2 separate regions of the Homo sapiens genome follow, and region 2 is linked to region 1. A link means that fine-mapping ties the variant in region 1 to the expression of a gene that starts in the linked region. Tissue or cell type: whole blood. Region 1 holds a variant in brackets; the other region holds the start of a gene. All regions are shown on one strand. Distances are from middle to middle.

What was found. PIP is the estimated chance that this variant, and not a neighbour inherited with it, causes the effect.
Region 2: SNHG16 starts here. The variant in region 1 is fine-mapped to the expression of SNHG16 in whole blood (TOPMed, PIP 0.93).

What each region holds. Positions count from the first base shown.
Region 1 is chr17:76,507,817-76,513,218 of GRCh38, forward strand. No RefSeq gene overlaps it. Among named protein-coding and RNA genes, the nearest start is that of RHBDF2, 9.1 kb to the left of the region's middle. RefSeq lists a silencer at 2,420-2,630 and an enhancer at 5,013-5,402. The variant G/A (reference allele first, on the strand shown) is at 1,926.
Region 2 is chr17:76,554,483-76,559,884 of GRCh38, forward strand. SNHG16 (small nucleolar RNA host gene 16) reads left to right here and starts at 3,282. Exons shown (of 3, transcript NR_038111.1): 1 at 3,282-3,375. SNORD1C (small nucleolar RNA, C/D box 1C) reads left to right here and starts at 4,308; the gene lies at 4,308-4,387. RefSeq lists enhancers at 2,313-2,412, 2,902-3,702, 3,103-3,362, 3,703-4,504.

The DNA.
Region 1 (5,402 bases):
ATCCACACATCTCCTTCCGTTTCTTCCGCTGCCCTGGTTGCTTCAGGCGTAAGCCCGGGGTGGCCTCCATGCCTTCCCTAGTCCACCCTGCACAGGCTGCCAGCTCTGTGGCCACCACTGCTCCTGTTCCAGGATCTCCAGTGGCTCTAGGTCACCTCCCAAAGACAGTCTGAGCTCCTCAGCCATCGAGAGCCCCACAACCTGGTGCCAACATACTTCCCTGGTCTTACCTGGTATGTTCTCCATCACAGATTTGGCTTTCTGTAGCTCCCAGTCTCTGCTCACTTGCCTCCAGGGTCTCCACCGCTGACATGGTCTCCCTTCCTCACGGAGCCTTGAGCTGCTCTGCACCTCTTTTCCAGAACTTTCCTTGACGCCCCTTCTGGACAAGCTCCCTCCTCTGTGGTGTCCACGCTCATGTACACAACCTCCTTCTTCTCTCATGGAGAGATTTGAGAGGAGAAACAGGACCTCATTTAGTCTTTTTTTTTTTTTTTTTTTTTTTGAGACAGAGTCTTGCTCTGTCGCCCAGGCTGGAGTGCAATGGCACGATCTCGGTTCACTGCAAGCTCTGCCTCCCCAGTTCACACCATTCTCCTGCCTCAGCTTCCTGAGTATCTGGGGCTACAGGTACCCACCACCACGCCCGGCTAATTTTTTGTATTTTTAGTAGAGACGGGATTTCATTGTGTTAGCCAGGATGGTCTCTATCTCCTGACCTCGTGATCCGCCTTCCTCAGCCTCCTAAAGTGCTGGGATTACAGGCGTGAGCCACCGTGCCCAGCCCTAGTCTCTTTTAAAAAAAGTAATAGTGATGGGGTCTCACTATGTTGCCCAGGCTGGCCTCAAACTCCTGGGCTTAAACAATCCTCCTGCCTCCACCTCTCTAGTAGCTGGGAATACAAGCTCGAGCCATCGCGCCCTGTTTAACGTGATTTACTGATGGATGGGATGTGAGGGGTGAAAGAGAGGACAGTTGAGGAGGACTCCAGGGCTTCTTGCCTATTTAAATTGGCAAACAGAGCCTCCACTTTCGAGGGGAAATAGCCAGGGAAGAGGAGGCTTTGGCAGGGGTTCCGCTTCGTCCACACGAAGCGTGAGGGGTCCAGGAAGCAGCTGGAGGCTCCAGCCTGAATCAGGATAGAGATGTCAGGGCTGGGATTTAAATTTGGGATTGGATGAGCTCACTGAGAAAAGAGTGTGGGAAGAAAAGAGGGGCAAGGACAGAGCCCTGGAGCCATCAGCCCTGAGTCCAGAATAAAGGGACCAGGGAGAGGGAGGATTGGGAGAGGGAGGATTAGGAAGGGGGAGGTGGCATTGAGCTGAGATCGAGCCACTGCATTCCAGCCTGGGCTACTAAGCAAGACCGTGTCTCAAAAAATAAAATAAAATTAAAAAAATTACAAAATAAGGCCGGGTGTGGTGGCTCACGCCTATAATCCCAGCACTTTGGGAGGCCGAGACAGGTGGATCACCTGAGGTCAGGAGTTCAAGACCAGCCTAGCCAACATGGTGAAATCCTGTTCTACTAAAAATACAAAAAAAAAATAGCCGAGTGTGGTGGTGGGTGCCTGTAATCCCAGCTACTCAGGAGGCTGAGGCAGGAGAATTGCTTGAACCCAGGAGGCAGAGGTTGCAGTGAGCCGAGATCATGCCATTGCATTTAGCCTGGGCAATAAGAGCGAAACTCCGTCTCAAAAAAAAAAAAAATTACAAAAAAATCTAATAGAAATTTGGTAGAAAGGATAAGAACAATTCACAGAAGAATAAGTAAAAATGGTCAATGAATATAGAAGATATCCAACCTCACTAGTAATTTGGGAGATGTAAATCAAATCTGTGATGATCCCTAGCAACCAGATCTCCATGTCTGAATGGCAGGTGCCACTCAAGGAACCCTGGGGAAGTGGCTGGCTCCAGGGCCA[G/A]GGCCAGGGCCAGGGCCGGGCAAGAGCATGAGGAGCCTGGCACATGTTGTTCGCAGCAGAAAGCAAGGAAGCTTTAAAAGATTAATGGGGCCATGTCAAAAGGACACAGGAGCCAGCTGGAAGGGACTCCTACTGGCCAAGTTGTAACAATTTGAACATCAGAAAGAAAAACGATTGGCCGGGTGCTGTGACTCACGCCTGTAATCCCAGCACTTTGGGATTCCGAGGCGGGTGGATCACGAGGTCAGGAGATCAAGACCCTCCTGGCTAACATGGTGAAACCCCGCCTCTACTAAAAATACAAAAAAATTAGCTGGGCGTGGTGGCGGGTGCCTGTAGTCCCAGCTACTCAGGAGCCTGAGGCAGGAGAATGGCGTGAACCCAGGAGGCGGAGCTTGCAGTGAGCCAAGATTGCGCCACTGCACTCCAGCCTGGGTGACAGAGGGAGACTCCGTCTAAAAAAAAAAAAAAAAAAAAAGTCATTTGTTCATTAGACACTCAAACTGGGGAAATCCAGAGAAACTCTTGGGACCCCACCAAAGCATTTATTCAACCAAACTCTTGGCCAGGCCCAGTGGCAGGTAATCTCAGCACTTAGGGAGGCTGAGGTGGGAGGATCACTTGTGCTCAGGAGTTTGAGACCAGCCTGGGCAACATAGCAAGACTCAGTTTCTAAAAAAGAAAGAAAGAAAGAAAGAAAAATAAATTAGCCGAAGGTGGCGGCATGCACCCGTTGTCCTAAGCTACTCAGGAGGCTGAGGCAGGAGGATCGCTTGAGCCCAGGAGTTTGAGGCTGCAGCGAGCCATGATTGTGCCACTGCATTCTAGCCCAAGCCAGAGAGCAAGATCCTACCTCTTTAAAAATATATATATATATATGTGTATATATATGTGTGTATATATATGTGTGTATATATATATGTGTATATATATATATGTGTATATATGTGTGTGTGTATATATATATATGTGTGTGTGTGTGTGTGTGTGTGTGTGTGTGTGTGTGTGTATCAGGCCCAGAGAGGCAAAAAAATCAAGCATCTATCCTGCCTTTCCAGTAGAAACTGTATTTCAAAGCAGCCAAATAGTTGTCCGGTTTGAGGAAGGAATGCTTTGCTTTACAGAAGAATGCCAGCTGTATTAGGTATTTCTGGCTGCAAAACAATTTATCCCAAAACTTAGCTGCTTGAAACAGCACACGTTTATTATCACTCAGTTCCTGTGGGTCCAGGAATCTGGGCGTGGCTTAGCTGGTTCCTTTGGCTCAGGGTCTCTCATAGGGTGTCAACGAGAAGCTACAGTCATCTCGAGACTTGACTGGGGGACAATCCACTTTGAAGCTCACTCCCTCGGTGACAGGATTCAATGTCCGTCTGGCTGTTGGATTGAGGCTTTCTTTCCCCACTGGCAGTTGTCCAGAGACAGGGACGCTACACAGGAGTGTCAGCTGGGCAGTAGCACAGGACTCTGGGCTCAGAAGCCTCTGTGCTTGGTTTAACGCTCTGCTGTCCCCACATTGGAAGGCGTAATCATTTTTTCTTTGAACTTGTGTCTTATAGTGAAGTCCAGCTGGACAGTGGAGCATGCACCCTATCCACAGCTGACATCCACTGGACTCGCATACAACGTTCTCCATGTCCATGGCACAGTGGTCTGGCGGATCCATGTTGGGTGGGAGTCTAGCAAGATTCAATGTGAATACAAAGTAAGTGAGTTAAGGAAGCCACTGGCTTCCCCGGAGTGTTGGGAGAATCAAGAAGTGAAATAAAGGTGGGGTGCGGTGGCTCATGCCTGTAATCCCAGCACTTTGGGAGGCCAAGGTGGGCAGATCATCTGAGGTCAGGAGTTGGAGACCAGCCTGGCCAACATGGCCATACCCTGTCTCCACTAAAAATACAAAAACTAGCCAGGTGTGGTGGTGGGCACCTGTGGCCCCAGCTACTCGGGAGGCTCAGGCAGGAGAATCGCTTGAACTCGGGAGGTGGAGGTTACGGTGAGCCGAGATTGTGTCACTGCACTCCAGCCTAGGCGATAGAGTGAGACTCCGTCTCAAAAACAAAAACAAAAACAAAAGTGAAATAAAAACAGGTGAGTTAGTTTTGTGCAGTGTTTCCACTGCTGTGGTAAGAACAACACACACCACAGACGCATGTAGGAACTATGAAATACCAATTGTGTAATTCTGCTGATTCTGCATTATGAATTCAATGCTCTTCTATTTGTGTGCAAAAACTGGCATTGCACAATATAAAGATGGATAGTAAAATTCATGCTGACAATTTAAATTTGTATTTTAAAATAAATGACACTGTCATCCCAGCTACTCGGAAAGCTGAGGCAGGAGGATTACTTGAACCCCGGAGTTCAAGACCAGCCTAGGCAACAGCCTGGGTGGGGGCTGCTGGCCCCCCTGGGCTTTCTGTTCCCTGGGACCCTCATCCTAACTCCTAGGGAGTCGTGCATGGGGCCACTGGGTTCAGCAGAAAGAACAGCAGGTAACCCAAAGCCAGCAGGTAACCAAGCTTTCACAGAGAGGGTGAGAGGCTGGCTCGTGGTTGCACAGCAAGTCCAGGGAGATTGGAGCCCGTCTGGGTCTCTTGGGACCAATCTAAAACCAAGCAGCCTCAGACACTGCTTTGCTGGCTCCACGGTCACCAAGGAGAAATGGAAGAGGCTCTTCCAAGGAGCTCTTCTCTCCCAAGGCCCCCAGAGGGTAGGAGAGGCAGAGGCTGGGTCCCATCTCACCTCCCGAGCTGCCACCGACGCCTGGGCCCTCCCTTTCTCCCTTGGCCCAGATGTCACTCCAGGGTAAGAAGCTGGGAGCAAAAGTCTCTGGTCACTGGTCCCCCTAGATCACACCCCTGTGCTCTTCCCGCCTCAGATCCCAGCTGCCCTCGCCACCCTCATCATCCTTCCCCGTTAGCTGCTGCTGGTGTGGGGCCATCGGAAGGTTTGAGCAGGGGCCGACGAGGTCAATTTTCCTGAAGAGAGCTTTGCTGGATGGAGCCTGGACTGTAGGAGGTGACCTTGGAGACCACCGGGGAGGCCGTGGGGAGCCCGGGCCAGGGCGATGTCTTCCTGTCCTGCTGTGTCCTCTCTGCTTCTCTCTAATGGTGGGGACTGTGGGAGAGGCTGGGACTTTGGGGTCAGCCTGTGGCTCCTGCCTTGCCCCGTGGCCGTGGGCGGCTTGTTGATGAGCCCAGCTCTTTGGCTGTAAGATGGGGTCATGAGGTGCATCTCTGAGGGTGATGGAGGGGAACAGATGAGGCCCGTCTAGAAGAGACCCTCCCTACCTCAGGAACCCCGTCCTTGCTCATCTGAACTCACCCCGCTGTTCACATGTTTGCTTACTATGCTCTTCGTCCTTGGGGATGGATGCTTCCTCTGGCAGGCCCTGCCTGTCTGCTCTGGCACCCAGATCAGAAGGGCCCAGCTCCCAAAGGGCTCAAGAGGAGGAGGAGGAAGGGACTCTGGGCG
Region 2 (5,402 bases), 47 kb after region 1:
GAGCTGTAAAGAATGGCCCTCACTATACACTGGGTGGCATCCAGGCCCAATACAGCCCTGCTAGAGCCCAGAGCCTCCATCTTCCACACATCAGCTCTGCAGCCTCCCATCCTCACTCTTCCTGCCACGAAGTGGCTCAAATGGCAGAGCAGGTGCCCATTGTTCCCCCTTTCAACCTCATTTCTGATTTTGTCCCCAACCACCCCTACAAACACATGAAAATCTTCTTCCTTCTCCCTTCCTCCCCGAAAACAAAAGTCCTTATACATAAGGTCACCTTATTCATTAGCGGTAAAAGCATGGATTCTACAGGCTGGGAGCAAACCCTGACCCTGCCAGTTACTGGTTATGTGAATTTGGGCAAGTTACCGAATTTCCCAGTGCTTCTGTTTCCTTATCCGTAAAATGGGGACAGTGATAGTGTTACCGGAGAGGAGTCCTGATCCAGACCCCAAAAGAGGGTTCTTGGATCTTGAGCAAGAAGGAATTTGGGATGTCTATAGACTAAAGTGAAAGCAAGTTTATTAGAAAAGTAAAGGAATAAAAGAATGGCTACTTGGCCAGGCATGGTGGCTCAAGCCTATAATCCTAGCACTTTGGGAGGCTGAGGCAGGCAGATCACTTGAGGTCAGGAGTTCGAGACCAGCCTGGCCAACATGGTGAAACCCTGTTGCTACTAAAAATACAAAAATTAGCCGGGCGTGGTGGCGTGCGCCTGTAATCCAGCTACTCGGGAGGCTGAAGCAGGAGAATTGCTTGAACCCAGGAGGTGGAGGCTGCAGTGAGCCGAGACAGCAGCACCACTGCAGCCTGGGTGACAGAGCGAGACTCTGTCTCAAAAAAAAAAAAAAAAAAAAGGCTACTCCACAGAGCAGCCCTGAGGGCTGCTGGTTGCCCATTTTTATGGTTATTTCTTGATTATATCCTAAACAAGGGGTGGATTATTTACGCCTCCCATTTTTAGACCACATAGGGTAACTTCCTGATGTTGCCATGGCATTTGTAAACTGTCATGGCGCTGGTGGGAGTGTAGCAGTGAGGACGACCAGAGGTCACTCTCATCGCCATCTTGGTTTTGGTTTTGGTGGGCTTATTTACTGCAAACTGTTTTATCAGCAAGGTCTTTATGGCCTGTATCTTGTGCCGACCTCCTGTCTCATCCTGTGACTTAGAATGCCTTAACCGTCCGGGAATGCAGCCCAGTAGGTTTCAGCCTCGTTTCACCCAGCTCCTATTCAAGATGGAGTTTTCTGGTTCCAATGCCTCTGACAGTAGTACTTCATCGCATTGTGAGGATTAAACGAGTTCATACATGTACAGAAACCAGTATAGGGAATGGCACCTGGTAAGTGCTATGAAGTATTAGCTATCATTACTATCTTGTCTACAGTAGGTCACCAGCCCGCTAGCAGCTTTTGGGAAATTCCACACTTAGAATTCCCACTGTAAGTCTCAAATGAAAGGAACTATGTTTGCAGGGATAGAACACATTCTTCCTTTCAGTATTACACAAAATAACGTGTCTTCAAGGGTAAGGTAGAGAAACCTAATGGCCAGAATTACTGCTGAATGAATTAATGATTATTTGCTGAAGACTTACTGTGAGCATAGCAGGTAAATACCAAACCCTGCACTGTTAAGAAATTAAAAAGAAAAAAATAAAAATAAAAAGAGGCTGGGCGTGGTGGCTCACGCCTGTAATCCCAGCACTTTGGGAGGCTGAGACGGGTGGATCACCTGAGGTCAGGAGTTTGAGAACAGCCTAACATGGAGAAACCCCATCTCTACTAAAAATACAAAATTAGCTGGGCGTGGTGGCGCATGCCTGTAATCCCAGCTACTCAGGAGGCTGAGGCAGGAGAATCACTTGAGCTTGGGAGGCGGAGGTTGCCGTGAGCCGAGATCGTGCCATTGCATTCCAGCCTGGGCAACAAGAGCAAAAGTCCATCTCAAAAAAAAAAAAAAAAAAAAATAATAATAATAATAAAAAGAGACTTCTGCTCTTGAAGAGCTTACAATCAAATGAAAGGAGGTAAACATAAGCAAATGTGGTAATTTGAAGATAAGTATCTGCAACATATTACCATCTGCAGGACAATATAACCCACACCGAAGGCCACAGAGATCACTGTTAATGGGTGGATGAGAACAGGGAGACTGGAATGGAGAAAAGGCTCTCGGTCTTGCAAACTTAAACTAGCTTTCAAATAGGTGCAAATTCTGGCCCTGATTGTTGATGTCGTTTTTGCCTTATTTTTATTTCAAAAACGAAGCCAGACCGGGCGCAGTGGCTCACCTTTGTAATCCCAGCACTTTGGGAGGCCAAAACAGGAGGACTGCTTGAGGCCAGGAGTTTGAGACCAACCCGGGCAACATAGTGAGACCTCATCTCTGCAAAATAAAAATAATCAGCTGGGCGTGGTGGCGCTCGCCTGTCGTCCCGGCCACTCAGGAGGCTGAGGCGGGAGGATCACTTGAGCCCGGGAGGTCCAGGCTACAATAAGTTATGATTGCACCACTGCACTCCAGCCTGCGTGCCAGGGTGAAACCTTATCTCAAAAACAAACCAAAAAAACCCAGAAACAAAAAAAAATGAAGCCAAGGTGTTTGCCTGAAAAATAACACTCAGAAGAGCAGTGGGTGTTACATCATTCTCCGTTCTTTTCGTAATTCAGCTCGTGACACTTGCCTTTTTTTCTCTTCTCGGAATGCCCCGGGCCCCTGGGCAGCCGCGGAGGCCGAGCCCCGTCGCTCTCCAGCGCTCCTTGCCGCCCGCGCCTCGGCTTCACCGGCCTCGCCCCAAACTTAAAAACACCTGAGCAGGAGGTTGAACGATTCCCTCGGAATCTCTCCTCTTCACTAACCCAGCGAACCACCCCAAATGCCCCTATCCTCCCCCAAATAAAATCCGCAGAGCAATTAACAAAGATACTCGGCCAAGCCCCGGTTTCCTCATCTGTCCCTGCCCCCTCGAACTTTCTGTGCTTCCCCAGTCTCGACCAGGGACAAACTGTGTTGAAGCTCAATGACTTTCTGGCAGAAGTGAACCTCCAGCTTCGTTTTCTGACAGCCGTGGTTCTTCACAGGCCTGGTTTCCCACTCCGGACCCTCCACTGCCCCTGGTGGCGGCCACCATCTTACCCCCAGCTCCAGGGTCGCGCTGAGGACGCGGCCAGCCCCCAGCCGCCGTAGTTTTGAACTACATTTCCCACCAGCCCTTTCTCAACATCGCGAGAGTTCCGGAGAGATTGCCGAGAAGACTTGCGCGCAGGGGCGGTCTCGCGTTCTTTTCGAGGTCGGCCGCGTGGCTGGAAGACATGGCCACTCCAGTCGGTGTTGAGCACGGCGAGCAGTCTCAGGCCTTTAGTGATGATGGTAAGGCTGCCTGGGTGGGAAAACGGGGTCTTCCTTGACACGACACTAACATACTTGGCTTCCCTTCCTCAGAGACGAAGTGGTGACGATAATCTCGGTTTCTCCCTCATAGGGTGGTTAGGAGGGTTAAAAGTACTGGATGAGAAAATGCTTTCCAAACGTTGAGAAAATGTTACTATGTGAAGGGAGAGAGCTCAAGCCCGTCCTCGGCGTCATAGGGCCGGCTTCTGCGGGGGAGAGCGCCTAACAACCTGGGCAGCCCCGTGCGCCTCCGCCGCGCGTGTGCTGAGCGTCATGCCCAGGGGTCTTCGGTGCCCGCGCACGGGCAGACTCTGACGATGGTGGTTCTTAATTCAGCATCAGGAGTGTTAACGTGTGAAGACGTGATTCCGCTTGGAGTGTCTTGAGGACGGCCCCAATCGGTAGTTCATATTTAGCTTTACAGATAGGAGTCAATAGGATTGTAAACTTCTGGAAAGCCGTAGTTTTAACAACGAGCCTTTTTTCCTCCCCCAGAGGCCTTTCTTTGTTTGGCATCTGCAGAGACGGTGAAAAGCAGAGCTCCAGGTTGAAGGATCAGAGTAATAGATGGAGCCCTTAACATGAGTAAGAGTGGGTGCAGGCAGGGCCTGAGTGGTCACTAGAAATGAGAAAGCACAGTTGGTGCCATCACATACATTCACCTCCTGCTTTATTCTGAAGTTCAAGTATGAGAATACGTGTTGACATACAAGCCAGCTATGGTAAGAAATTACTCAAAATTCAGAATGCTAATTATTTTAATGATAAAAATGAGTAGCGTCTTTGCCCGTGTGATTTGGGGCCACTAGGTGTCATTGTAACCAGCGTGGATCCTCGTTAGGGCATGCAGGGATGAAAGAGACATGGCAAATGAATTTTGGATCGCTAGGATTTAGGAATCTTTGTTATTGGCTGAGCTGAGGATGATTTAAAGTTATCCCTGTCTGAAATGGTATCTTTTGTGAGGAGGTCTGACTTGCTGAGGCTCAGCTGTTTAATACAAATCTGGAGAATAAACCTTAAGGTGGTTTCTGTTAGAATGAAGCCTGTTATCCTTCTCTTTTAGATTAAAGGTGGTGGCTGTGGCCTTGAAAACAGTCATGTGAAAACTCATCACCTTAAGGTGTTAAGTGTAAGGATCTTCATGATGAAATTTCTGTAAATGGTGAGATTTTTAGTACTTTCATAGACTTGAATATGCTTATGGTCCTCTTTAAGTATTGGTTTGTTAGTTTTGGGGATGTGTTGGTCTTCCAGGGTTACGATTGCCCAGATAATGGAAGTAGTATGGAATTCCTTTTGATAGGGTCCTTGCCAAGCACTCTCATAAAGAGCATTTTTTGTTTGTTTGTTTTGAGACAGAGTTTTGCTCTTGTTGCCCAGGCTGGAGTGCGATGGTGCGATCTTGGCTCAGCGCAACCTCTGCCTCCTGGGTTCAAGCTAGTCTCCTGCCTCAGCCTCCCAAGTAGCTGGGATTACAGGCATGCACCACCACGCCTAGCTAATTTTGTGTTTTTAGTAGAGACGGGGTTTCTCCATGTTGGTCAGGCTGGTCTTGAACTCCCGACTTAAGGTGATCTGTGCTGGGATTACAGGCGTGAGCCACCTTGCCTGGCCATAAATAGTATTTCTAATATCAACCCCATATGAGGTAAATTTTTTTCCCCACTCTGCTGCTGAGTAAGTAAAAGTGAGGCGTAAAGAGTTCTTTTGCCCAAAGTTATACAAGCAGTTACTGAGTTAGACTGGCAGTTCTGAACTGGGGAGCGATGGTGTTCCTGGCATCTGGTGAATGCTACTATTAATAAATACCCTGGCTGGGCCTGGATATTTATCTCATGCCTGTAATCCCAGCACTTTGGGAGGCCGAAGCAGATGGATCACCTGAGGTCAGGAGTTCGAGTTCGAGACCAGCCTGGCCAACATGGTGAAACCTTGTCTCTACTAAAAATACAAAAATTAGCTGGGTGTGGTGGCGGGCACCTGTAATCCTAGCTACTTGGGAG